Linked DNA regions of Homo sapiens. The protein of the gene in region 3 interacts with the protein of the main gene of each other region in a biochemical or structural test. Each region holds a gene or a part of one and is shown on either strand. Other genes may lie near its edges.

The links. Proteins that work in one complex are often made in the same cells at the same time.
Region 1: the proteins of EPS15 (region 3) and FCHO2 form a complex in vitro, tested with the Homo sapiens proteins (one study listed by BioGRID).
Region 2: of the proteins of EPS15 (region 3) and USP8, one has a biochemical effect on the other in vitro, tested with the Homo sapiens proteins (one study listed by BioGRID).
Region 4: the proteins of EPS15 (region 3) and SPATA31E1 interact in a test that uses a peptide from one of them, tested with the Homo sapiens proteins (one large-scale study listed by BioGRID and IntAct).

The regions. Positions count from the first base shown.
Region 1 is NC_000005.10:73,085,041-73,088,031, forward strand, and holds part of FCHO2 (F-BAR domain only protein 2), read left to right. Parts: intron 1-2,548; coding exon 2,549-2,713; intron 2,714-2,991. UniProt on the Homo sapiens protein: Functions in an early step of clathrin-mediated endocytosis. Has both a membrane binding/bending activity and the ability to recruit proteins essential to the formation of functional clathrin-coated pits.
Region 2 is NC_000015.10:50,427,405-50,430,904, forward strand, and holds part of USP8 (ubiquitin carboxyl-terminal hydrolase 8), read left to right. Parts: intron 1-3,500. UniProt on the Homo sapiens protein: Hydrolase that can remove conjugated ubiquitin from proteins and therefore plays an important regulatory role at the level of protein turnover by preventing degradation. Converts both 'Lys-48' an 'Lys-63'-linked ubiquitin chains.
Region 3 is NC_000001.11:51,407,767-51,411,266, reverse strand, and holds part of EPS15 (epidermal growth factor receptor substrate 15), read left to right. Parts: intron 1-1,570; coding exon 1,571-1,732; intron 1,733-2,934; coding exon 2,935-3,132; intron 3,133-3,500. UniProt on the Homo sapiens protein: Involved in cell growth regulation. May be involved in the regulation of mitogenic signals and control of cell proliferation. Involved in the internalization of ligand-inducible receptors of the receptor tyrosine kinase (RTK) type, in particular EGFR.
Region 4 is NC_000009.12:87,881,748-87,885,676, forward strand, and holds the start of SPATA31E1 (spermatogenesis-associated protein 31E1), read left to right. Parts: upstream 1-1,129; 5' UTR 1,130-1,144; coding exon 1,145-1,453; intron 1,454-2,244; coding exon 2,245-2,299; intron 2,300-2,843; coding exon 2,844-2,904; intron 2,905-3,165; coding exon 3,166-3,929. UniProt on the Homo sapiens protein: May play a role in spermatogenesis.

The DNA.
Region 1 (2,991 bases), on a different chromosome or scaffold from region 3:
AAATTTGTTCTCTCAAAAATAAGACACAGGCTGGGTGCAGTGGCTCATGCCTGTAATCCCAGCACTTTGGGAGGCCAAGGCAGGTAGATCGTGAGGTCAAGAGATCGAGACCATCCTGGCCAACATGGTGAAACCCTGTCTCTACTAAAAATACAAAAATTAGCTGGATGTAGTGGCACGTGCCTGTAGTGTCAGCTACTCGGGAGGCTGAGGCAGGAGAATTGTTTGAACACGGGAGGTGGAGGTTGCAGTGAGCCAACATCGCACCACTGCCCTCCAGCCTGGCGCAGAGACTCCGTCTCAAAAAATAAAAAAATGAGATACAAATTTTCTAACCAGATTTTAAGTTTCCCTCTGCTATTCAGGTATCAGGTGTTTCTGTGAGGAAATGGAAAAATCTTATAAATGTGGTTTTTGATGTGGTTAGTCAAGCCTTTGAAAAGAATATCCAAGGCCAGGCATGGTGGCTCATTCCTGCAATCCCAGCACTTTGGGAGGCTGAGGCAGGTGGATCACTTGAGGCCAGGAGTTGGAGACCAGCCTAGACAATGTGGCAAAACCCTGCCTCTACTAAAAATACAAAAATTAACCAAGTGTGGTGGCACGTGCCTGTAGTCCCAGTTACTCAGGAGGCTGAGGCACGAGTCTAGCTTGAACCTGGGAGGCAGAGGTTTCAGTGAGCCAAGATTGCACCACTGTATTCCAGCTTGGGCCTTAGAGGGAGACTCTGTCTCAAAAAATAAATAAATAAATAAATAAATAAATAAATAAATAAATAAATAAATAAGAATGCTGTAAAATAGGCTGGGCACGGTGGCTCACACCTGAAATCCCAGCACTTTGGGAGGCTGAGGCGGGTGGATCATGAGGTCAGGAATTCAAGACCAGCCTGGCCAATATGGTGAAACCCTGTCTCTACTAAAAATACAGAATTAGCCAGGCATGGTGGTGTGCGCCTGTAATCCCAGATACTCAGGAGGCTGAGGCAGGAGAATCGCTTGAACCCAGGAGGCGGAGGTTGCAGTGAGCCAAGATCGTGCCACTGCACTCCAGCCTAGGCAACAGAGTGAGAGACTCTGTCTCAAAAAAAAAAAACACAAAAAATTCTGTAAAATAGAAATCTGTTTTCTGTTGCTGACTGTGTACTCAGAAGAGGGACAGGAAATATTTCTAAGGTGATTGTCAAGGTTGTTGCTCTTGGTCTATGGTAGAACTTTTGCACAACCAAATTGGTTATCAAGAATTGTAAAAGTTTGAGGGCCTGGATAGTAATTAAGAATAAGGCAGCAGTTCATCTCCACTACTGATCTATGCCTCCAGGCATAATAATACAAGTTGGATCAATGTTGTGACATCCTATTCTCCATTTCTCTGTGTAGTGTTAAGCTTCTGTGCAGGGGATCACAGGATCTTACTGCTAGTACCTAGCATTTCTGTCCATTTGCTCTATCCAGAAACCTGGGAACCCTCCTAGACTCCTCCTTTCTCATTTCTTGATTCCAACTCCTAAATATCTTTCAAATAACTTTCTTAATATCTTTCCTTTTTATTAGCCCTAGTTCAGATCCCCCTTTCCTATCATCTAGAGTCCTAAACTGTTTTGACTTGCAGTTGGTCTCCCAACCTTGCATCTTGTGCTTCTCTTCCCTTTTGAGACACTAATCTGAAATGTTCTTGTCTTCCTTATCTTTGGTGACTTCCCATGGTTACATCATGAATTTCTTACCATGGCCTGGCCCATGCTACCACTCTAGTCTCATCTGCCACTCCCCTCTACCTGTATCCTGTTCTCCTGCTAATCTGATATAGATGCTATTTCGTTAAATGCATCATGCTCTGTCTCTGTATCTTTGGTAACTTCTGCCTAAAATACACACCATCATCCCCACCACCATTTATAATTTTCAGCTGAGATAGGTGCTTTTGTGCCTGTAGCTCCTCAGAGCTCCTTTACAGCATTTATAATATTCATTATAATTATTGGTTTACTGTTCCTGCCATTCCATTAGACTGAAGTATACTGAATAAATGGTGATGATACTAGAAACAAAACACCTCAGAAATACCTACTTGGCATTATGTTAGACCAGTAAAACTTTAAAAAGAAAAGTGAATAGAAAATAGCAATGTTATACAACTCTTCCCAACCGTAGTTACCTTTCCATCTTTACTTCTTCTACTACTCAGTAGTCATTTCTTTTTTAACTTTATGCCACCTATATCCCTCCTAGGGTTTTTCTCTGGGCTGTCCTCAGTTACTTCCTTCTTCTCTTTTGACTCGCCTCAACATGCATATAGCATAGGAGTCCAGTAGTTAACATCTCTGAAGATTAGTATTGAGTCAAAGAAAAGCATGGGTTATTTACTTAATGAAAATTGATATTCACTAAAAAATATGAGATTTGGAAACAGGATAATAGTTTGTTTACTGTGCACATCTAATGAATGTAGCACAGGACTGATGTAGTTTAGCTTACTTGCTCATTTGATTCTATTTTGTTTGAAATGTATTTTACCCTGTGTAAGTGCTTTATTCTTTTCTTTGTAGGTTCTGGGTCCCTCCGAGCAAAATTTGATCTTTCAGAAGGACCTAGTAAACCCACGACACTTGCAGTACAATTCCTCAGCGAGGGAAGTACCCTTTCAGGAGTAGATTTCGAACTTGTGGGCACTGGCTATAGGCTTTCCTTAATAAAGAAGCGGTTTGCTACTGGTAAGTTAGGAGATTTCAAACTTTTTAATGTACATGGGAAACATTTGTATTCTAACAGTTATTAAAAAACTGTCAAGCAATTTATAATCTAAAGACATGGAAATTTTTTCTTTAACCCTTGGTACAAGGTGCCAGGTAGAGACACACCTGGGAGAGAGTTCTTACGGTCAGTATAGCTGAACACCTGTTATCTGATTCTAATGTACTGTAAATAGCAGATGGGAACTAGAGTTTTGTATTGGTAACCACAGTGGAAAATGTCCTTAGAGTGCATTTGA
Region 2 (3,500 bases), on a different chromosome or scaffold from region 3:
TATTGGGAGTGATTTACGGAATTTGTTCAAAGTCATATGATTAATAAATGGAAAGTAAGGCCTGCAACAGTTCCATAATATTAAATTTATTAGTACTGAATGATGAAATATTATATTAAACTTATTTGGAATTCTACATTTATAGCCGTACTAATTTTTTTTTTTTTTTTTTTTTTGAGACGGAGTCTTGCTCTGTCTTCTAGGCTGGAGTGCAGTGGTGAGTTCTCGGCTCACTGAAATGTCCGCCTCCTGGGTTTAAGCAATTCTGCTTCAGCCTCCCGAGTAGCTGGGACTATAGGCACCTGCCACCATGCCCGGCTAATTTTTGTATTTTAGTAGAGATGGGGTTTTGCCATGTTGGCCAGGCTGGTCTTGAACTCCTGACCTCAGGTGATCTGCCCGCCTCAGCCTCCCAAAGTGCTGGGATTATAGCCGTGAGCCACCATACCTGGCCCTTTTTTTTTTTAAACTGAGACAAGGTCTTGCTCTGTCACCCAGGCTGGAGTGCAGTGGCATGACCTTGGCTCACTGTAACCTCTGCTTCCTGGGCTCAAGTGATCCTCCTGCCTCAGCCTCCCAAGTAGCTAGGACTGCAGGCACACGCCAGCACACCTGACTAATACCATACTAATTCAAGTAAAACAGTTCTCATGTATAGTGAATAAGGGTTAACTAAGCCTTGTCTCTTTTGACTAACACATTACAATTTAGTTTTTTGTTTGTTTGTTTTTGAGAGGGAGTCTTGCTCTGTCACCTAGGCTGGATGCAGTGGCATGATCTCGGCTCACTGCACCCTCCGTCTGATGGGTTCAAGCAATTCTCCTGCCTCAGCCTCCCAAGTAGCTGGGATCACAGGCATATGCCGCCACGCCCAGCTAATTTTTTGTGTTTTAGTAGAGATGGGGTTTCACTGTGTTGCCCAGGCTGGTCACGAACTCCTGAGCTCAGGCAATCCACCTGCCTCGGCCTCCCAAAGTGCTGGGATTACAGGCGTTAGCTACCACGCCGGGCCTACAATTTAGTTTTTAATAATGCAGCAGTCTTCCTCTTATCTGCAGGGGATATGTTTCAAGACCTCCAATGAATGCCTGAAACCACAGATAGTACTGAACCCTATATATACTATGTTTTCCCTATATATACATTTTTATGATAAAGTTTAACTTATAAATTAGTAACAAGAGATTAACAACAATAACTAATAATAAAATAGAATAATTACAACAATATAGTGTAATAAAAGTTATGCCCTGTGGCCATAACTTGTGCAACTTGAGGTGTGACAGCAAAACTAGCACAAATTTCTTTTTCCTTCATAATTTTGCAGATAAAAGATCTTACCATAGATCTTAGCAACCTCAGCATGAGGTTTTTGGTTTTTTTTCTTATTAGGTTGAGAACTTTCACCTTTTTGCTTAAAGGAAGCAGTTTACAACTTCTTTTTGACATACGTGAATCTCTGCTTTTACACTTTGAAGCCATGATTAAGTAAAATGAGGGTTACTTGAACACAAGCACTGTAATACTGCTATAGTCAGTCTGGTAACTGAGACGGCCACTTAGTGATTAACAGGCAGGTAGCATCTACAGTGTGGATACACTGGACAAAGGGATGATTCATGTCACAGACTGGGCGAAGTGAGGTGGTGCACAATTTAAAACTTATGAATTGTTTATTTCTGGAATTTTTTATTTAATATTCTTGGACTGTGGTTGACTGCAAGTAGCTGAAACCATGGAAAGCGAAACCATGGATAAGGGGGGACTACTACACTAAATTCTGAAACATACCAATAATGGTGTAAACCCACATGTCTTTTTAATAGAGTAAAATGAAATAATTACACATTATAATACCAATTTCAGAACAAGAGTTATGGGCATAAGCATCCTGGAGGTGTTTTTTTTTTTTTTTTTGGAGGTGTTATTTTAATTTCTCAATTACAGAGTTTTAAAAATGAAAATGATTTTTTAAAATTTTGGTAGGTTGAATGATTTAAGATGCTGATTTCAGCTGGAAACAAATTGTTGCCTTCATATTATTTTGTTGCTCCTAGCAGCATGTTTATATTCATTCTTATATTGATGGTTCCCAGTCTTGACTGGTGTTAGAATTCATTTGGGAAGCTTTTTAAAAATACCTATGTGGGCAAGGCGAGGTTGGCTCATGCCTGTAATCCCAGCACTTTGGGAGACCTAGGCAGGAGGATCACTTGAGCCCAAGAGTTTGAGACTATCCTGGACAACATAGTGAGACTCTGTATTTTTTTAAATATATAAATAAGAAAATAAATACCTGTGTGTATGTCTCATCCATAGAGATTCTGATTTAATTGTTTAGGAGTGGGATCTGAGCATCAATATTTTTTTAAAGTTCTCTAGGTAACTGATTCTAACATACAGCTGGGATTGAGAACTATGTTTTTGGTGCATGTTAAGTACGATCTGGCTCCCTACTTAATGATTTTGCATCTGTTAAAAAATTAATGAGGTAGAAGACAAAAGAAATGGATTAAAGTTATAAATGTAGATAGACATCTATTCTGGAAAACAGTTACCCTTTTGTTAGTTTCTGGGAATGGTCCTTAATAAAACAAACAGACATTGGCCTGGTTTGCTAAGTGCCTATATCACAGCATTAAGCCACACTTTACTTTGTTACCGTTATGTACTTAACTTTCATTTTAAGAGGCAGAAACTTTATTAAGAGTTGTATTTTTTTAGTATCCCCTGTATCACAACACTGCACCTTGTGTATAGTAGGTATCTATTGTTTACCTAATTGAAGCCAGTTTAGACAGTCACTCTTTAGAACTAGGGCTAGTTCAGCTCCTTGGGAGGCTGAGGCAAGAGAATCGCTTGAACCGGGGAGGTGGAGGTTTTGGTGAGCCGAGATTGCGCCACTGCTCTCCAGCCTGGACAGCAGAGTGAGACGTCATCTCAAAAAAATAAAGAACTAGGGCTAGTTTATTCTTTTCTTTTCTTTTTTTCTCATGGCATTCTAAGACTCCCCCAATTAGACAGGGTCTCCCTCTATTGCTCAGGCTGGAGTGCAATGGTGTAATCATGGTTCATTGCAAGCTCAACCTCCCAGGCTCAAGGAAGGCCTCAGCCTTCCGAGAAGCTGGGACCACAGGCGCATGCCACCATGCCCTGCTAATTTTTTATTTTTTTATTTTTTTTTTGTAGTGATAAGGTCTCACTGTGTTGCCCAGCAGTTCACCAAATCCTAGATAACATAATTTTGGTGTCAATACTTAATTATCTTCCAAAACAATAGGGATTATCAAAGTCAACATTGATGCCTTATTAGTTGATAAACAGATTTAATATCTGTCTGCTCTCACATATAACTGATTTCTAGTTAATATTTACATCTTAAGATGTTCCTTTGGCATACACTCAACATTTTCCACATCGAATTACCTACTTTGCTGTAAACCAGTGGTTCTTGTTGGGGGTAATTTTGCCTTCCAGGACACATTCGGCAATGACTGTAG
Region 3 (3,500 bases):
TGCCTGGGCTTTAAAGGAATTTTTTAAAGAAAGCAACATGATATTTTTAGACTAACCAGTTGGTTAAGAAAATATAAGATAAAAAGCAATTATTGAAAGCATTGTTCAGTGTTCTATTTAATCACAGAAACATCTGCATATATTTGAAAAATAGTGACACATGTGAGACATTTAGTCTGCAGATGGTATGTCACATGGTGGTTAAGAGCTCAGGCTGTGGAGTCAGAACCCACTTTGAATCCATAGCTTACTATTTTTAACTTTGGACACATTACCTACACATCAGTACTTCAGTTTTCTCATCTGTAAAATATGAAATGATATCAGTACCTAACTCGTAGATCTGTCATATAGACTATAAATAAGTTAGTATATTTAAAGAGCCTAGAGCACAACCTAGCACATTTTAAGTAGCATTTAAAGTGTTGGCTATTATCATAATGGTGCTATCTTGTGTAACCTATGCAGTAATTCAGAGACCTTTTACCTGTAAGTTTCTCTTCTGTTCTTAGATTCTTATTCTGGTGAATGACTGTTGGGACCTTTGAATAGATATTATTTTTAGAAATTTGTGTTCAGTTTTACCTCACCCGCTTTGAAATCTTTGCCTACCTCCTGCTGACAGATACTTCGGAGTTATTAATCCCTGAGCCACTGCGCCTGGCTTTTTAAAAATTTCTGTAGTTCTTGTTATTAAGCATGAGGTCTGGTATGTACATGGATGAATAAATAACATTTTCAAAATGGTTCTTTTTTTGTTTTAAGAAATCTTTTCCTACACTGAGATCTGCATTTCTTCTACACATTTTAAAGTTAGACTTTTACATTCAGGTCCATTATTTACCTGGAATTAATTTTTCTTTTTTTTTTTTTTGGAGACAGTGTCTCACTCTGTTGCCCAGTCTGGGCATGCTGTGGCATGATCACAGCTCACTGCAGCCTTGACCTCCTGGGCTCAAGAGATCCTCCCATCTCAGCCTCCCAAGTAACTGGGACCACAGGCACGTACTACCACGTCCAGCTAATTTTTTTTTTTTTGAGATGGAGTTTCACTCTTGTTGCCCAGGCTGGAGTGCAATGCATGATCTCGGCTCGCTGCAACCTCCACCTCCTGGGTTCAAGCAATTCTCCTGCTTTAGCCTCCCGAGTAGCTGGGATTACAGGCATGCGCCACCACGCCCAGCTAAATTTTTTTTTTTTTTTTTGCATTTTTGTTAGAGACAGGGTTTCTCCATGTGGGGTTTTTTTTTGACCAGAGAATCTGAGAGGGGAAAGATTGAGCTTAAAACAGATTTGTGGGGAAATTCCAGGAGTTCTATTTTCAACATGTTAGCAAAGCCCATCACATGTCCAAGGACAGATTTGAGTTAGCAAATTGAATATCTAAATATGGATTCTAGGAAAGATGTCTTCAAGTAAAGATTGTATTTAAAGCTGTTAAGTACCCTAGTCTCATCAACACAGTATACTCAGTAAGACTTTATTCTTTCTTAAGGTAGATTTAAAATTACTAACTTAACCCTCCCCTGCCCGCAAAGAAAATAAATATATTAATTTTCTTGGATTTTAGGATCTTCAAGATGAAGTTCAAAGGGAGAATACTAATCTGCAAAAACTACAGGCCCAGAAACAGCAGGTACAGGAACTCCTTGATGAACTGGATGAGCAGAAAGCCCAGCTGGAGGAGCAACTCAAGGAAGTCAGAAAGAAATGTGCTGAGGAGGCCCAACTGGTAATGTCTGGCTGTTTCCTGCTGCCTGCACCTATACATTAGTTGCTTTTCCTGGCTTAAGATGAAAACATTCTCTACTTTTTGTTATTGATGGTGGTGGTTGGCAATCCAGTCAGCATTTGGGTTCATGGGGGCGATGGAGCAAGGTTCATCCAGAAATTACAGGCCTTCTTTAGAGGAAATAGAAGGGCAGTTAATGAACTGTTTTTCCAAATTTTTGTTGGAAATATGGTGCCTATACCTTCAACTCTCCTCTGTCCCTCCCCCAGTTACCCTTCTTTACGAAAACCATACATCAAAAAACATCATAATTGGCTGGGCACAGTGGCTCACACCTGTAATCCCAACACTTTGGGAGTCTGAGGCGGGGGGAATTGCTGGAGCCCAGGAGTTGGAGACCAGCCTGGGAAACATGGAGAAATCCCATCTCTACAAAAAATATGAAAGCTGGTTGGGTGCAGTGGCTCACGCCTTTAATCCCAGCACTTTGGGAGGCCGAGGCAGGCGGATCACGAAGTCAGGAGATCGAGACCACGGTGAAACCCCGTCTCTACTAAAAATACAAAAAATTAGCCAGGGCGGTGGCGGGTGCCTGTAGTCCCAGCTACTCGGCAGGCTGAGCCAGGAGAATGGTGTGAACCCAGGAGGCGGAGCTTGCAGTGAGCTGAGATCACGCCACTGCACTCCAGCCTGGGCAACAGAGCGAGACTCTGTCTCAAAAAAAAAAAAAAAAAAAATTGAAAGCCAGGCGTGGTGGCCCACATCTGTAATCCCACCTACTCGAGAGGCTGAGGTGAGAGGATCACCTGAGCCTGGGAAAGTTGAGCCTGAAGTCTGAAGTGAGCTGTGATCGTGCCATTGCACTCCAGCCTGGGTGACAGAGTGAGACTGTCTCAAAAAAATAAAACATCAACAACAACAACAACATCAAAAACTCCATAATAGGGCTAGGTATGGCTGGGCATGTTCCTATAGTCCCAGCTACTCAGGAGGATCACTTGAGCCCAGGAGTTTGAATCCAGCCTGGGCAACATAGCAAGACTCTCTCTCTCAAAAATTAAATTAAATAAATTATTTGCTATTGCTGTCAAAAAAAACACCAAAATAGTAAACTAAACAAATAAATGTATTGCATTTTGGAACATTTTAATGACATCTCTTCTTTTAATCCCCATTTCTTCTCATTCACTTTCACATTATAGATCTCTTCTCTGAAAGCTGAATTAACTAGTCAGGAATCGCAGATCTCCACTTACGAAGAAGAATTGGCAAAAGCTAGAGAAGAGCTGAGCCGTCTACAGCAAGAAACAGCAGAATTGGAGGAGAGTGTAGAGTCAGGGAAGGCTCAGTTGGAACCTCTTCAGCAGCACCTACAAGATTCACAACAGGAAATTAGTTCAGTAAGTCTTTGTAAAGCAAGAAATATATTCAAATGGATCCTCTGTGTCCTTTAGTCAGTTATACTTTCCAACTTCTGCTCCTTCAACCTCTTGCCTAGTTTACTGTTCATTTTTCAGTCATTTTATACAATAGGTTTTTTTGTCACCTGTTATATATTGAAACTATCATACATCTTGTATATCTATCTGATGATTATCATTGGAGTAGTGATTAAGAGTGTGGGCTTTGTGGCTAGATGGTCTAGGTTTAAGTACTGGTGTGCCACTTACTAGCTAAATCACCTTAGTATCAGATTCTTCATCTTCAAAATTGGAGGATTAATAAATACCCTACCCCTTAGGGCCACTGTGAGGATTAATGAGGCAAA
Region 4 (3,929 bases), on a different chromosome or scaffold from region 3:
TGGAGCAGAGAATACAAATGGGAGGCCGAGGCGGGCGGATCACAAGCTCAGGAGTTCAGGACCAGCCTGGCCACTATGGTGAAACCTGGTCTCTACTAAAGATACAAAAATTAGCTGGGCATGGTGGCACACTTCTGTAGTCCCAGCTACTTGGGAGGCTGAGGCAGGAGAATCGCTTGAACCCAGGAGGCAGAGGTTGCAGTGAGCCGAGATCATGCCACTGCACTCCAGCCTGGGCAACAGAGTGAGACTCCGTTTCAAAAAAAAAAAAAAAAAGAATATGTACGGAGGACACGAGTGATCTCAGAAGAGTCTGCTGAACACTGGACTTGAGCCTGGCACGGAATGCCCAGTCCCGCTCTCCACCCAAAGGAGCTGGACCTCAGATCACCCCAAACCACTCCTGGCTCATGGTGGAGCACACATGTTCCAAAACTTAGGAAAGTGAGGACTGTATTTGGGGCAGAGAAAGAAAAAATGGATCAGGACAACATATGAAAGATCTAAAGAAAATAAGTAAAGGCTTAATTATTGTTTTGAAAATAATTTGTCAAAGTGTTTGAGGTTTTTTTACAGCAAGCTCCATAATTCGGTAACTCAAAATTATGTTCCTAATATAAAAATGTCATTTGGAGGTTTAATTATTTGTAATTTTTATACTTTTTAGTTTTGTAAATTTAAGAGTTCTATTCTGGGTTGATGAAAGTAGAAAATGTAAGGTGTGGGAAAATTACAAAAACAGAGGAGATTCTGAAATAATCCTTAAGAAACCACCTAAATTCCTAGGAGAATTTCACAGTTTCAAAGGCTATGAAATGGGTGGGCTCAGGCCTAGATCTCCAAGGTACAAGGAGAGCCAGGTGACACCTGTGTTCCAGGGGAAGAGAATAGAAAATGGACTGAGGACTGTCTCTGACAGGGTGAGCAGCTGGAGTGGGAAGGAGCGATTTGGGGGACCCAGGAGGGTGGAGGGACTGGGGGCTGGGAGCTGAGGGCGGGGCTGTGCTTCAGCCTCCTCCTCCCACTGCCCCTCCCCCACCCCCAGGAGCCCTTTGTGAGGAGGAGGCCCCAGCTGTGTGATACAAGCCTGGGCCCCAGTCCCTAGTCCCAAAGGGGATGCCCAGAGCTCAGTTGCTTGAAGGCGATGGGAAATCTCGTCATCCCTCTAGGGAAGGGCAGGGCAGGCAGGGTTGAGAGTGGGCAGAGGATTCCACCCCCAGCTCCCAGACCATCTGTGGAGTGCACAGGAGACGACATTGCACTTCAGATGGAGAAAATGCTCTTTCCTCTGAAGAGCCCTAGTGCCACATGGCTGAGCCCTAGCTCCACTCCCTGGATGATGGATTTCATCCTCACCAGTGTGTGTGGCCTAGTGCTCCTCTTCCTATTGCTCCTCTACGTCCACAGTGACCCACCCTCACCCCCGCCCGGGAGGAAGAGGAGCAGCAGGGAGGTAAGGAGTCCTCAGCCCAGCCCCACAGAGAAAGATTCTCTCTTCTTTTCCTCCCCTCATTTCCACTTTTCCTAAGCAATGTGAGACCCTTCTGTGATGGGAAATCTCGTCATCCCTCTAGGGAAGGGCAAGGCAGGCAGGGGTGAGAGTGGGCAGAGGATTCCATCCCGAGCTCATCTGTGGGGTGCACAGGAGGCGTCAGGGCAAAAACCAACACTGGACTCAGTGGCAAGGACCGGGTCAGGAGAGGGGTGAGGTCTCTGTGGGAGGAGAGGCCCCAGCCCTGGCTCATCACCCCCTTCCTGGGGCAGGTGCCTGGGGGCCCAGCCTCCTCTGTATGATCTGGGTGTGATCTGGGAGCTGTGCTGAGCTCCTGAGAGCCTCCCAGTAGAGCCTGGATTCGCCTGTGGCTGCACCCCGGCCACATGTGCTTTTTCCTCCTTCACCACAGCCCCATGGTACCCTGGCCTCCTCTCCATTCTCATCCAAAGCAGAATCCTACTGGCAGCTCAGAGGCGCCTGTGGGCCTGAGCCTAGGTGTTCCTTGAGCGGAGGAGCAGGGACTGGGGACAGCCAGGTTGGAGTCACACAGACAACCCTTCCTTGCATTTCCCTAAGAAGGAAAACAGAAAACATTTCATTCACGGTAAACATGAGTAAAAAGCACACACAGAGCTCCCTGAGCTAGAGGCTGAGAGCCGTGTCCCTCATGAGCACTGCGTGTGTGCAGCTGGTCTGGGGAGAGGAGACTGAGAACTGGTCCCAGCCCCTCATCCTTTCTTGCCTCTCAGCCTCAAAGGGAGAGAAGCGGGAGGTCCAGGAGCAGGAAGATCTCAGCTCTGAAAGGTGAGGCTCTGCTGCCCCCCGGGACTCCCCAGAGGTAACTGAGCTTTGCCTGTCCCTGAGGAAGTCATTTGCAGAGGCCTGAGAGGGAAGCTCCTGGGAGAGAAATCAGAACCTGCGGCCTCCTCAGATTCCCTGCGGGAATGAAGCCACGGGCCTGGGACCGGTATTGCCCATAAGGGGGCGGTGTGGGGAAGGGACCAAGGCCTGCCTGGATATGGGGGGAGGTCAGGGAGGCTCCAGGTCCATGTGGACAGCTGTTCACCTCAGCAATGGCTGACTCCTCTTTGAGACCACCCATTTGCTCTCCCAACAAGATGGTTGTGACACCGATGAGGGGGTGGACGTGGAAGCACTTTTTGCAAATGACAAAGTGCTGCACAGTGGAAACCTTCCTGTCACCATTGGGGCCATGTGGCCTCGGACACAGATGCGAGGGCTTCAGGGTCTAGTCCCCCATGGTGTCCCCTAAAAAGACATCCACTCAGCCTCCATGAGGTTCCCAGGCACCGCCCTCTCCACCATAACCCTGTCTCCTGATTTCCAGCTTGCAGAATCCTCCTGAGGGAGCTGGAGGAGACTCGGGACCTGAACTACCTTCTGGAAAGGTGAGGAGCTTCCCCCTTCTGTCCCTGTCCTCCTTCCTACCAGGGCCTCTGATGCAACCCTACGGCCTGGTGGTGATCTGGGAGGGGGAGGTCCCGGGAAGGGGACAGGAGGGGACTGAAGCCCTGGGGCAGGCTTAGGCAGAGCTTTATGAAGTCAGCAGTTGGGGAGGTGGAGGAACCGGGGGCCCCAGGTGCCCACCCGTCCCAGCTTCCCGGCCCCATCTACCCCTGGCTGCAGCTTGTGCCTCTTGTCTCCTGCAGCCACCTGAGGAAGCTCGCTGGCGAAGGCAGCTCCCACCTGCCCTTAGGTGGAGACCCCCTGGGGGACGTGTGTAAACCAGTGCCTGCTAAGGCCCACCAGCCGCATGGGAAATGCATGCAAGATCCGTCTCCTGCCAGCTTGTCCCCACCAGCTCCCCCAGCTCCTCTGGCCTCCACCCTGTCACCAGGCCCGATGACCTTCTCAGAGCCTTTTGGACCACACTCAACCCTGAGTGCCTCCGGGCCACCAGAGCCCTTGCTTCCCCTAAAATGCCCTGCAACCCAGCCACATGTGGTTTTTCCTCCTTCACCACAGCCGCATGGTCCCCTGGCCTCCTCTCCACCTCCACCCGACTCCAGCCTGGCTGGACTTCAGTGTGGCTCCACAACATGCCCCGTCCCCCAGAGCTCCCCTCTACACAACCAGGTGCTGCCTCCTCCAACCAGGGTGATCTCTGGCCTGGGGTGCTCCAGCGATCCCATCTGGGACCTCTATTGCTGGAGGGAGGCTGCCACCACCTGGGGCCTCTCCACCTACTCACATGGCAAATCCCAGCCACGGCATCTTCCCGACCACACCTCAGAGGCTTCCTTCTGGGGAGACCCCACACCCAAGCACATGGAGGTAGGTGGCTGCACATTCATCCACCCTGACGTGCAGAAGCTGCTGGAGACCCTCATCGCCAAGAGAGCACTGATGAAGATGTGGCAGGAGAAAGAAAGAAAACGGGCCGACCACCCGCACATGACATCACTGGGGAAGG